2 separate regions of the Homo sapiens genome follow, and region 1 is linked to region 2. Evidence: fine-mapped expression QTL. A gene starts in region 2. The other region holds a variant in brackets. All regions are shown on one strand. Distances are between the middles of the regions. Region 1 has its middle 8.1 kb from the start of RGL4. Region 2 holds the start of IGLL1 (immunoglobulin lambda like polypeptide 1).

Region 1 (5,374 bases), 100 kb after region 2:
CCAGCAACGGACATGCCTAGTTACAAACACCACTGCGCTCAGGGAAACCCAAAGTATGGTTTACCTCTTGATTTTTTCTCCAAAGCCAGCCACGAAAAAGTTGACCACAGACTTCAAAACATTTCTAACAATAGCAAAGTCCAATTGATGGCAGACTTCAAAAATTGCAAATACTCTTCTCTAACTCGAGATGCCCCCATTGTTTTACAATTCATTCACAGCTCTCCCAATTCAGATAATGATGACCAACTCTGGGCCATTTTTATTTGTAGTCTGGTAACCCAACACAGATGACATTCCACCTTTTCCAGGTTTCCAAGGGAACTGACTCAGAAAGTTAACCCAAGTTCATATTCATTTCTAGAGAAAGATAAAAAAAGTTTTCTAACTTTATTCATGCATACGCAATACAAGGATCCGTGGAATTTCTGAGAGACCTTCAACCTCACTGCCAAATTTTCAAGAGCTGTGACAAACCTTAATGTCAAAGAAAGACTGCTTTCATAGCAGCAGAACTGCCATCACATCTCTCAGCTGGATCTGCCACGGGCTTTTTTTTATGACGTATCAACTGCTTCCCCATGTCTCTGAGTTGTTGAAAGTATCACAGCGGCAAACACATTTTTCTTTCTCACTTTTTTTTTTGCTGTTGAGATGGAGTCTCAATCGGATTATCCCCCAGGCTGAAGAGCAGTGGCGCAATCTTGGCCCACTGCAACCTCCGCCTCCTGAGTTCAAGCGATTCTCCTGCATCAGCCTCCAGAGTAGCTGGGACTAGAGGCACATGCCAGCACGCCTGGCTAATTTTTGTATTTTTAGTAGAGACAGGGTTTCACCATGTTGGCCAGGCTGGTCTCAAACTCCTGACCTCAGGTGATCCACCCGCCTTGGCCTCCCAAAGTGCTGTGATCACAGGCGTGAGCCACCATGCCCAGCAGGCAAACACATTTCTAGTTCATGCATACATATGCCAGGTGGGATGAACCTGCCCCGGGGCCCCTGATGGTGCTCATGGGTAGAGCAGGGTGATCCCCAGGTCCCACGATGGCATGGGACCTGATGCTGGCATCAGGTGGTCTGGCCTGTTGTTAGGCCCCCTGCTGGTGCAAGCACATGCCAGAAGTGGAAGGCAGGGCAGGTCTATACCCAGGTCCCTGGGTGAAGTACTTGGGTACTTGTGGGGTGGGGGTTCTCTGGGAGGGGTCAGCCTGTCCTTAGGCCCTGTGGGAGCCTGCATGGACACAGGTTGTGGTTGGTGGGCTGGGGTGATCCCCAGGCCCCTGAATGTCATCCTTGGGGACCAGGGGCAGGTGGGCTGGGTCTGTTGGCAGTCCTCCCTATGGTATGTGTCTGTGCCCATGGCAAGAGGTGGGCAGAGCAATTTCCAGGCTCCCAGGTGGCTTGCTTGGGTGGCAGTGGTGGTGACTGGTTGTGAGTGGGTTGAGTCTGCATTCAACAGTCAACTCAGAAACCCCAGACACCATTTTCCATGCCAACTGGCCTGTCCACCACTCAGAAAGGCCCTGGACACTGTGCCATGTGGCTGGCCCCGCATTGGGCCAGGCTTCCATGGGAGGCAGGAGGTCTGGGCCCTGCCCTGGGGAGGGAGAAGAATGGGACACAGGCAGTGGTCATTGAGCGGAAGAGACAGAATGAGCACAGGATGCTGTGAGGCGGTAAGTATAAGGAATCATGGAGCTGAAGGTGTTCATCTGACATATACCAGAAACTAACATAAGGTAGGAAAATACACAAAACCAACTAATCCAACAAAACTTGGGCAAAGAACTGATAGACATTTCTGAAAAGAAGGCAGGAAATGAACAGGTAAAAAAAAAAAGCTTGCCCACATCACTAATCATCACAAAAATTTAAATCAAATCACACTAAGACAGCGTCCCCATCCACATAAAATGAATGTTGCCAAAAGCAAAAACAGAATTTTTAAAACGCAATCACAAGTGTAAATTTACAGAGAGGGAAACTCTTAGACACTACTGGTGGGAATGTAAATGGGCGTACACACTATGAGCAATAGTTGGCAGTTCCTCCTCAAACTAAAAATACAATTACTATGTCATCTAGCAATCTCATCACTGGGAAATACAAAGTACATGGATGTATTATGCTCCCTGATTACAAATGACATAGAAGAGCTATAGTGGTCCAAACAATACGGTATTGACATTAACACAAAAATACAGAACAAGACACAACGAGGGAACCAAATACCAAACCCAAATTCATATATGATGGACACATTTTTAACAAATATACCCAGGGGATGGGAGACCCCGGGCTGCCTTCGGTTGGGGCTGCAGAAGTGTCCTGGGGGGACCTGCAGCCACCTCTCACCTGGGCTCTGGATGGTTTCTACTCCATGAGGATTTCCAGAGTTTCCCCTCAGCCACCCTCAGAGTCAGGGGGGCTTCCATGGGGCTGCAACCATCTGTCCCAGTCTTTCCTGTCTCTATGACACACCGTGTGACCTGTGTACACTGCGAGATGTAGGTGCGTGCATTGAAACCGTACAGTTAAGATGACCTACAACTGATGCTACTCTAAGTCTTCCAGAGATTTTTCAGATATCCCCAGAGTAAACCAAACTAGTGATATCCCATGGTTTTGCAAACC[A/T]GAACCAACAACTGCACAGAAACAGCTCCTTATGCGCCATCAGACACTCTCCAGACCTGCCCCTCACTCACAAATGTAACAAAGCAGCATGAACCCAGGCAGTCTTCACTCCTCAGGGCCACATAACAACCTCTATCGGTCAGGAAGCCTTTGATCTGGGCCAGGCTGCCGACCCACAGGGGTTAATTGTGCCTCTCATGCTGAGTGTTGTTTCTCCTCACTGGACTAACCCCCACCCTTCCACCAAGAAGGGCCCCCAGGGAAACTGCTGTTTGACATCCAGGAGCCCATGTGGAATGTTCCAGCAACCTGGATGGCCTTGGCCACCTCTAATACCAGCCTTTCCCTCTGTGGGGCTCCCTTCCTGGCTCTTGCTCATGCAAGTCAATCTAAAGTGGCTGAGATGTCCTGCTCCCTCACCCTCCTGGGTCACCCTGATGGCATAGGCAGGTGTCTGCATTCAAGAACGAGTTACCCACAGGCCAACTTCCCTGGTGTGGGGGACAATGCCTGGGGCCTCCAAACAGCCAGCCCCAGGTAAACAATCCAGCTCTGACACAGCTCAAAGACTGTGTGGCGTACCTGGAGAGACTCTCTGGTCCTGTGCCCTCTTCTGGCTCACTGGATTCTTAGGATTATTGAGAGACTGGGCTTAAAGCTCTCAGCCTAGGGCCCACAATGCCACAGGGAATCAAATCAGCATGACCAGGGATCGAAGACCTCTCCTTGGCTGGGAATGGGGAATCAGGGTTGCAGAGACAAGGGGCACAGAGAGATGCCTGTGCCATCAGAGAAGGGACTGGGGATCTGGTCCACTCTGGGCTCCTCAACCTGAGCGTGAGGCCTTGCTGTGCCATGAGCTCACCTGCCCCTTGGGAGTCCACTGTGACTGCAGTCCAGTGGGGTCAATGTCCACACTGATGCCGGAAAGAAGTCCTGGGAGATGCGGAGGGCATCCTGTAGCGGCAGGCAGTCTGGGTGGTCCACGGGTGTGAGCTTCAGCAGGTCCTGGGAAGGGATGAGGTGGTGAATTGGGGGCCGTGTTTTTGGGGTTCGATGAGAAGCTCCTGGGGGAATGCTCAGTCCTCACCAAAAGAATTCAAAGGGCAGGTACTCAGGGACCCACACTCGTGCCTGCAAAATCTGAACTGAAAATTAGAATCGGAGCAGCAGGGTTGATTCTAAAAGGGGCTGGGCTCGCTTTTCTCCCTGCTGCAGTCATTACTCGTTTCCCCTGGCAGAGGCAGCCGGGTGGAGGCTCATCTCTTCAAGCAGCTGGGAGAGACACCCCACTACCCACCCTGCAGCTGCTCCAAGGATACTGGAGACAAAAAGACAGGGGCTGGGGAAGCAAGATGTTCCTGCCTCGACCAAGACAGCAATTGGCCAAATGCCCTGACCCTGCTGGCATGGTTACCGCAGGCCAGGCAGGCATATTCAGGGCTCAGGATCCCTCTGCCTGACTTTTCAAATGGGCTGTTCTCAGTGACTCTGGCCCCCTCCCACCCTGGGCTCACTCTTGAGAAACTCCTAAGCCTTCTCTGGCCCTTCAGGGGCCTTAACGCTTATGTGTAGGACCAGGATGCTCTGAGTGACCTACTTGGTCAATGGGCTGCTACAGCAGAGCTGTTGGGGAAGGCAGAGAGAAAAAGGACAATGACAGACAAAGAACCACTCAACACCTCAGAGACCAGCTTTGTCCCCCACCCAACCGCCTTGCTCCCCACATGAACACCTGCTTGCAGGAAGCCAAAGTGGGTCCACAGCAGCCCACCTCTGTTCTCACTCCCAGGGCAGACAAAGCAGCAAGAACAGGTGACACACAGCCCCGGTGACCCTGTCCCCTCCCTACCCGTGCCTACTCTCCCATCAAACCTGGCTTCGAGGGCTGCCCGCCAGTCCTGTCCAGGCCTTATCTGGCTCAGAGCAGATGATCCCCTGCACCTCCCACCCTGAATCACACAGCTACACCCAGCACATGCTACAGAGGCCCAGCACACTCTGGATCACATCCAGAAACTCCACAATAGGGGAGGAGACATGCTGTTTCCCAGGAAGGGCAGCTCCCCAGACTTGGTCATTCTCAGACTCCTCCAGTCAAAGGCCGGGCACAGCCAGCTGGGATCGCCATGCTTCACTCTGACCCACACGACTGGCCTTGCCTCCTCTATGGGAAGAGACCCCTCAGCACAACCTCAAACCGAGACATAACAGGACAGGACAGGCTGGATGCTAGAGAGGCCAGCCAGATCTCCACACAAAGGCTCTGCTCTTAAGCAGGAGGTAGCCTGAGGGTCAAAGGTTTCCTGAAGCAACTCAGGTGAGACCTCACATACAAGAGCCCCAAAGAGGCTGCAAAAGCACCAGCTCAGCCAGCCAAGAACCCAGGTGTCACACCCTTCTCAGACCACTGAGGATCGCTGGGATTCAGCAGGAAAAGGTGGACATGACAGCTGATGGACCAATACTTCCCAACACCCTTCCAGCAAGCAGCTGTGCCCCGCCCCTCCCCACATGAGTCACTCAACTTCAGTCCTGCACATGGATGCCTTTGACCATGGGGTCATGGCTTTGGTCTCCTGCCATAGGGGCAGTGAGAGGAACAATGGTGGTCTGGGAAGGAGGATCCTAGACTGGGTGTCCCACAAGACCAGGCTGTGACAGATCCCAGAGCCAATACTCATGCGCCAGCCAGTCCCCAAACCCAACAGCTACCCAAAGCCCAGGATATAAATAGCCT
Region 2 (5,335 bases):
TTTTGTAGAAATGGGGTCTTGCTATGTTGCTCAGGCTGATCTCAAACTCCTGGGCTCAAACAATCCCGCCTCAGCCTCCCAAAGTTGTGGGATTACAGGCATGAGCCACTGCACCTGGCCCATAGTATTTCTAAAGATTATAAAAACTCATATTCATATCCCCCCCAGCATAATACCTTTTTTTTTTTTTGAGTGGGAGTCTCGTTCTGTCGTCCAGGCTGGAGTGCAGCGGTGCAATCTCAGCTCACTGCAACCTCCACCTCCCTGATTCAAGCGATTCTCCTGCCTCCCCTCCCGAGTAGCTGGGACTATAGGCTCGCGCCACCACGCCCAGCTAGTTTTTGTATTTTTAGTAGAGACGGAGTTTTGCCATGTTGGCCAGGATGGTCTCAATCTCCTGACCTCGTGATCTGCCCATCTTGGCGTCCTAAAGTGCTGGGATTACAGGCATGAGACACAGCACCCGGCCCATAGTATTTCTATAAGATTTCTAAAGATTCTAATATAAAAACTTACATTAATAGCCCCCCAACATAATACCATTTTTTATTATCTGTGTCTCCCTCCACCTGTCACCCGTCCCTTGTGGAGACCCCTCGGGCCTTCCCCATCCCAGTCTCTGTTCTGTAGGCATCACCCTGCATGTGGCTGTCTCCTCACCCGGCCCCCGCTCCTTGTGGACTTGAATTGGGGCAAATCTAGATCCTCTGGGACCTCAGCCCCAGCACAGAGCCTGACCCTGATGGGGACTCCTTGCTCAGAAGTCCGTGCAGGACACTGACACCCGGTCCCGGCCTGCCACCATGCTGACCCCGCCTCCATGGCCGGGCTCCTGGTGTGGGTCAGGTCGGCTGCCACTGCTGGAGCTCTCACCACAGCCACCCCAGCATCCTCTGGGTGGGTGGGACGCTGAAGGCCCTCACCAGTCAGGGCCCCTCAGATTGCAGAAGGGGAAACTCAGGCCCGGTGTGGTGTCTCATGCCTGTAATCCCAGCACTTTGGGAGGCTGAGGTGGGTGGATCACCTGAGGTCAGGAGTTTGAGACCAGCCTGGCCAACATGGTGAAACTCTGTCTTTACTAAAAAAAAATACACAAAATTAGCCAGGTGTGGTGGCAGATGCCTGTAATCCCAGCTACTCCGGAAGCTGAGGCAGGAGAATGTCTTGAACCTGGGAGACGGAGGTTTCAATGAGCCAAGATCTCGCCATTGCACTCCAGACTGGGCGACAAGAGTGAAACTCTGTGAAACTTTATTTGAAAAAGAAAAAAAAGAGAGAAAAAGGGAAACTCAGGTCCCAGAGATGCACGTGTCCGCTCGATCAGCTTAGAGGATGGGACAGGGGAGAGCTAGAGGGGATAGCTTGGGCCTTAGAATCTGTGCCCATGAGCTGAGTGACTCGGACGGGTCACCTCACCTCTCCGGGCTCTATCCCCGTCTGCACAAAGGGGATCACAGCAGGACCTGCCTATGGGGCCACCGAGAGGGAGGTTCTGCCCCTGAAATGATTATCGCCTGTGGGTATAACATGCACCAGTGAACAGGCTGTTGTGTCCCAAATGCTCATAAATGGACCCCGATGCTTGGTGCTTTGTCTGGGGACCTCCCACCACACGCAGAGTGGTGGCAATGGCTGAGGTCACACAGGGAGTTGTGGCCTCCCTAGAGCCTCTCCTGGGCTTCTTCTTTGGAGGCACTTGCACCCTGGATAAGCTTGTGTCTCCTAGGGGCTGGTTTCAGGAGGCGATGCTGGCTGAGGTCTAGTGACCCAGGGACTCCAGGAAAGGCCCCTCACACCTTAGCTGGAGCTCCAGGGAGTGGCCCCTGCCCAGTGAGGGTGGGAGTGGACAGGTGACATAGGCCAAGGGGAAAAGAGGAGGGGGGGGAGGAGGAGTGGGAGGAGGAGGAGGGAGAGGCCTGGGCATCCTTCAGGGATAGCGGCCACCACTCCTGTGGACGTCCTGCCCCTGCCTCCAGTCCTGCCCTACCCCAAGGACTAGGGGGAGGTGAGGGAGACATTGGCCTTGGTGCCAAATGTAAGTGGGGGAAGAAATCTCAGGAATCAAGATAAATAATATTTTAATATGACATTAAGCAATAAAAATTAATTCAAAGATGGACAAAATCTTGACACTTTAGTTAAAGTCAGTGTCTGTGGCTCCCCTCCAGGGATTAACCTTCCTCCTCACCCCTCTGGCTCGTCTCCCCTTGGTCATCCTTTCCCGCCTCTGCCACCCAGACCCCCACATCCCCTGGAATCTCTCACCCCTTACCTGCCCCACCGGCTCCTCAGGCTGGACCGGCTGCTTCCTCCAGGGGCTCCAGGGCCCAGGGCCCTGCTCTGCGATGCAGCTGTTGGGCGCAGCAGGCCATGGGTTACCACGGCCAGACCCAGCAGCAGCAGGGGCCAGCGCTGCCTGAGGTTGGGGCCTGGCTCACCAGGGGCCTCAAGGCCCCCCTGGCCTGTCCCTGGCCTCATCGGCCCTCAGGGTCAGAGGTCCTTGTGGCCTGACTTGCAGTGTGGGCTCCCTAGAGAGTGGTGCCCTGGTCCCTCTCGCTGGCAGCAGCTGTCCCATTGCACCCCAGTCCATGTGGCCCCATCCTCATCCTCTGGTCCCTGCCCCCAGCCAGGCCCCTTCCAGAGTCCATGACCGTTACCCCTGGGGTTCTGTCCCAGAGGCACATCTGCCAACTGCCCTGCTGTGGTCAGGATCCAGGGCTCAACTGCCTCCCACACCTGTCAGCTTGGCCTTGCCCCTGGGGCCCTGGGTGCTTTGTTTGGGGACCTCCCACCACAGGCAGAGGGTCAGCAAGAGCTGAGGTCACACAGGGAGGTGGGATGCGCCATGGCCCCCCAAGACCCTCCCTTGGGGCTTTCCTTTGGAGGCACCTGCGCCCTGGATGGGCTTGAGTCCCCTCGGGGCTGGTCCCAAGAGGTGATGCACCTGACTTCCCTCCTTCCCCACTTCCCCGAGGGCGCCCTGGGTCTGTGGAGCATCTCACTGGGGTCCAGAGAGCTGCCCAGCAGGAGTCCCCCAGGGCTTGAGCTCAGGGGCCTGGGCTGAGGCTCCTCCAACCGGTCCTAGAGGGAGGTGTGGTTAGAGAGCAGGAAACAGGTTTGGGTTTAGCCAGAAGCCACTCAACGGTTCAAGTCCAGGAATCATGAGATAAGAATGAAAATGCTGTTTAATGCACCATGTTCAGCACCTCACTGACCTCACATCACACAGACACACACACACACACCAACCACCCCAGCTTCCTGAAGGTATAATTGACAAAACTGTATATATATTTACCACCTACAGTGCGATGCTTTGCCACACTGCAAAATGATTAAATCAAGCTGACACACACGTCCGTCATCTCACATACTTATGCTTTTGTAGTGAGAACATGGAAGATCTAATCTTAGCAATTTTCCAGTATACAATACAGTTTTTAACTGTAGACTCCATGTTGTACGATACATCTCCAGAGTTCATTCTTATAGATTTCACTCAAAGGCCAGTAGCTTCCTCCTGAGCGGTGAGTGCATCATGTCATGGCTTCTGACAGGCCCCCGGTCCTCTCCCAGCCCAGCATCCCCGACCCTCTCCCAACATCTCGCGACCCTGTGCTTTGGTGTTGAGGGAGCAGTGGCAGTCAGGAGGGACTGAGCACCTGTGCTGGGCGGCCAGGGCCAGGCTCTTTTGCTGGTGCTGCCAGAGACGCCTCAGGTCACCCAAGAGTCTCAGGTTCCTCTCCTTCCTCCAGAGGCGGGGCTGGAAATGCTGCTGGCTCTGCTCACACTCCAGGGCTGGGTTGAGGTTGGTGTTGGGAGATAATGCATGTCAGTGTTGTTTTCTTCATCTGTGAAAAAGCAGTAACATACACACAACCTAAAATTTATCATCTTGACCTTTTTTTTTTTTTTGAGAGTCTTGCTGTGTCGCCAGGCTGGAGTGCAGTGTGGCGTGATCTCAGCTCACTGAAACCTCCGAATCCCTGGTTCAAGCGATTCTCCTGCCTCAGCCTCCTGAGTAGCTGGGATTACAGGCATGCACCACCACGACAAGCTAATTTTTGTATTTTTAGTAGAGATGGGGTTCACCATGTTGGCCAGGCTGGTCTCGATCTCCTAACCTCATGATCCACCCGCCTGGGCCTCCCAAAGTGCTGGGATCACAGGTGTGAGCCACCGCGCCTGGCCCATCTTGACCATTTTTAAGTACACAGTTCAGTGGCATTAACTACATTCACAATGTCGTGCAACCATCACCACCATCCATTTCTAGATTTTTCTTTTTTCAGAGTCTTGCTCTGTTGCCCAGGCTGGAGTGCAGTGGCGCAATCTTAGCTCATGGCAATCTCTTTCTCCCGGGTTCAAGCGATTCTCCTGTCTCAGCCTCCTGAGTAGCTGGGATTACAGGCGCCCACCACCATGCCAGCTAATTTTTGTATTATTAGTAGAGATGGGGTTTCAGCATGTTGGTCAGGCTGGTCTCAAACTCCTGACCTCATGATCCACCTGCCTCGGCCTCCCAAAGTGCTGGGTTTACAGGCGTGAGCCACCGCAACTGGCTTTTTCTTTTTTTTTTTTGAGACGGAGTCTCACTCTGTTGCCCAGGCTGGAGTGCAATGGCATGTCTAGATCTTTTTCATCTTGCAGAACTCAAATTCTGTCCCCATTCAACACCAACTTCCCATTCCTCCCTCCCCCAGCCCCTGGCACCCACCATGCTAGTTCCCATCTCTATATTTGGGTACTCTGGATACCTCCTATGGATGGGACCATACACTACTTGTCCTTTGAAAGTCCTTTTTAAACTGGAAAGTGCTGCATGTGTAATACCTTCAGGGGCTTATTATTATTATTATTATTATTATTTTGAGATGGAGTTTCACTCTGCTGCCCAGGCTGAAGTGCAATGGTGCTATCTCGGCTCACTGTGGCCTCTGCCTCCCGGGTTCGAGCAATTCTCCTGCTTCAGCCTCCCAGGCAGCTGGTCTACAGGTGCCCGCCATCATGCTAAATTTTTGTGTTTCTAGTAGAGACGGGGTTTCACCATGTTGATCAGGCTGGTCCCGAACTCCTGATCTCAGGCGATCAGCCCACCTCAGCCTCCCAAAGAGCTGGGATTACAGGCGTGAGCCATCGTGCCCGGCCAATTATCATATTATTATTATTACCAGCTGACCCAGTTAGTGTGGCCTGGAAAATGTTGTCAACCATCATAAAATAAATGAATCCTTGATGATACTGAGCTTCCAAATGCCAGTCTTCAAATTTTGCACTGCAACTCAGAGGGTGTAAAATTAATTCCAATGGCTGCAACCAGCATTTTGTTAAAGTG

Evidence for each region.
Region 1: its variant is fine-mapped to the expression of IGLL1 in whole blood (TOPMed, PIP above 0.99).

What each region holds. Positions count from the first base shown.
Region 1 is chr22:23,680,226-23,685,599 of GRCh38, forward strand. It overlaps the pseudogene GUSBP11. Among named protein-coding and RNA genes, the nearest start is that of RGL4, 8.1 kb to the right of the region's middle. RefSeq lists a silencer at 4,937-5,231. The variant A/T (reference allele first, on the strand shown) is at 2,635.
Region 2 is chr22:23,577,713-23,583,047 of GRCh38, forward strand. It overlaps IGLL1 (immunoglobulin lambda like polypeptide 1), which reads right to left and starts at 2,578. Exons shown (of 3, transcript NM_020070.4): 1 at 2,273-2,578. The coding sequence starts at 2,478. It also overlaps a transcript of DRICH1 not described here.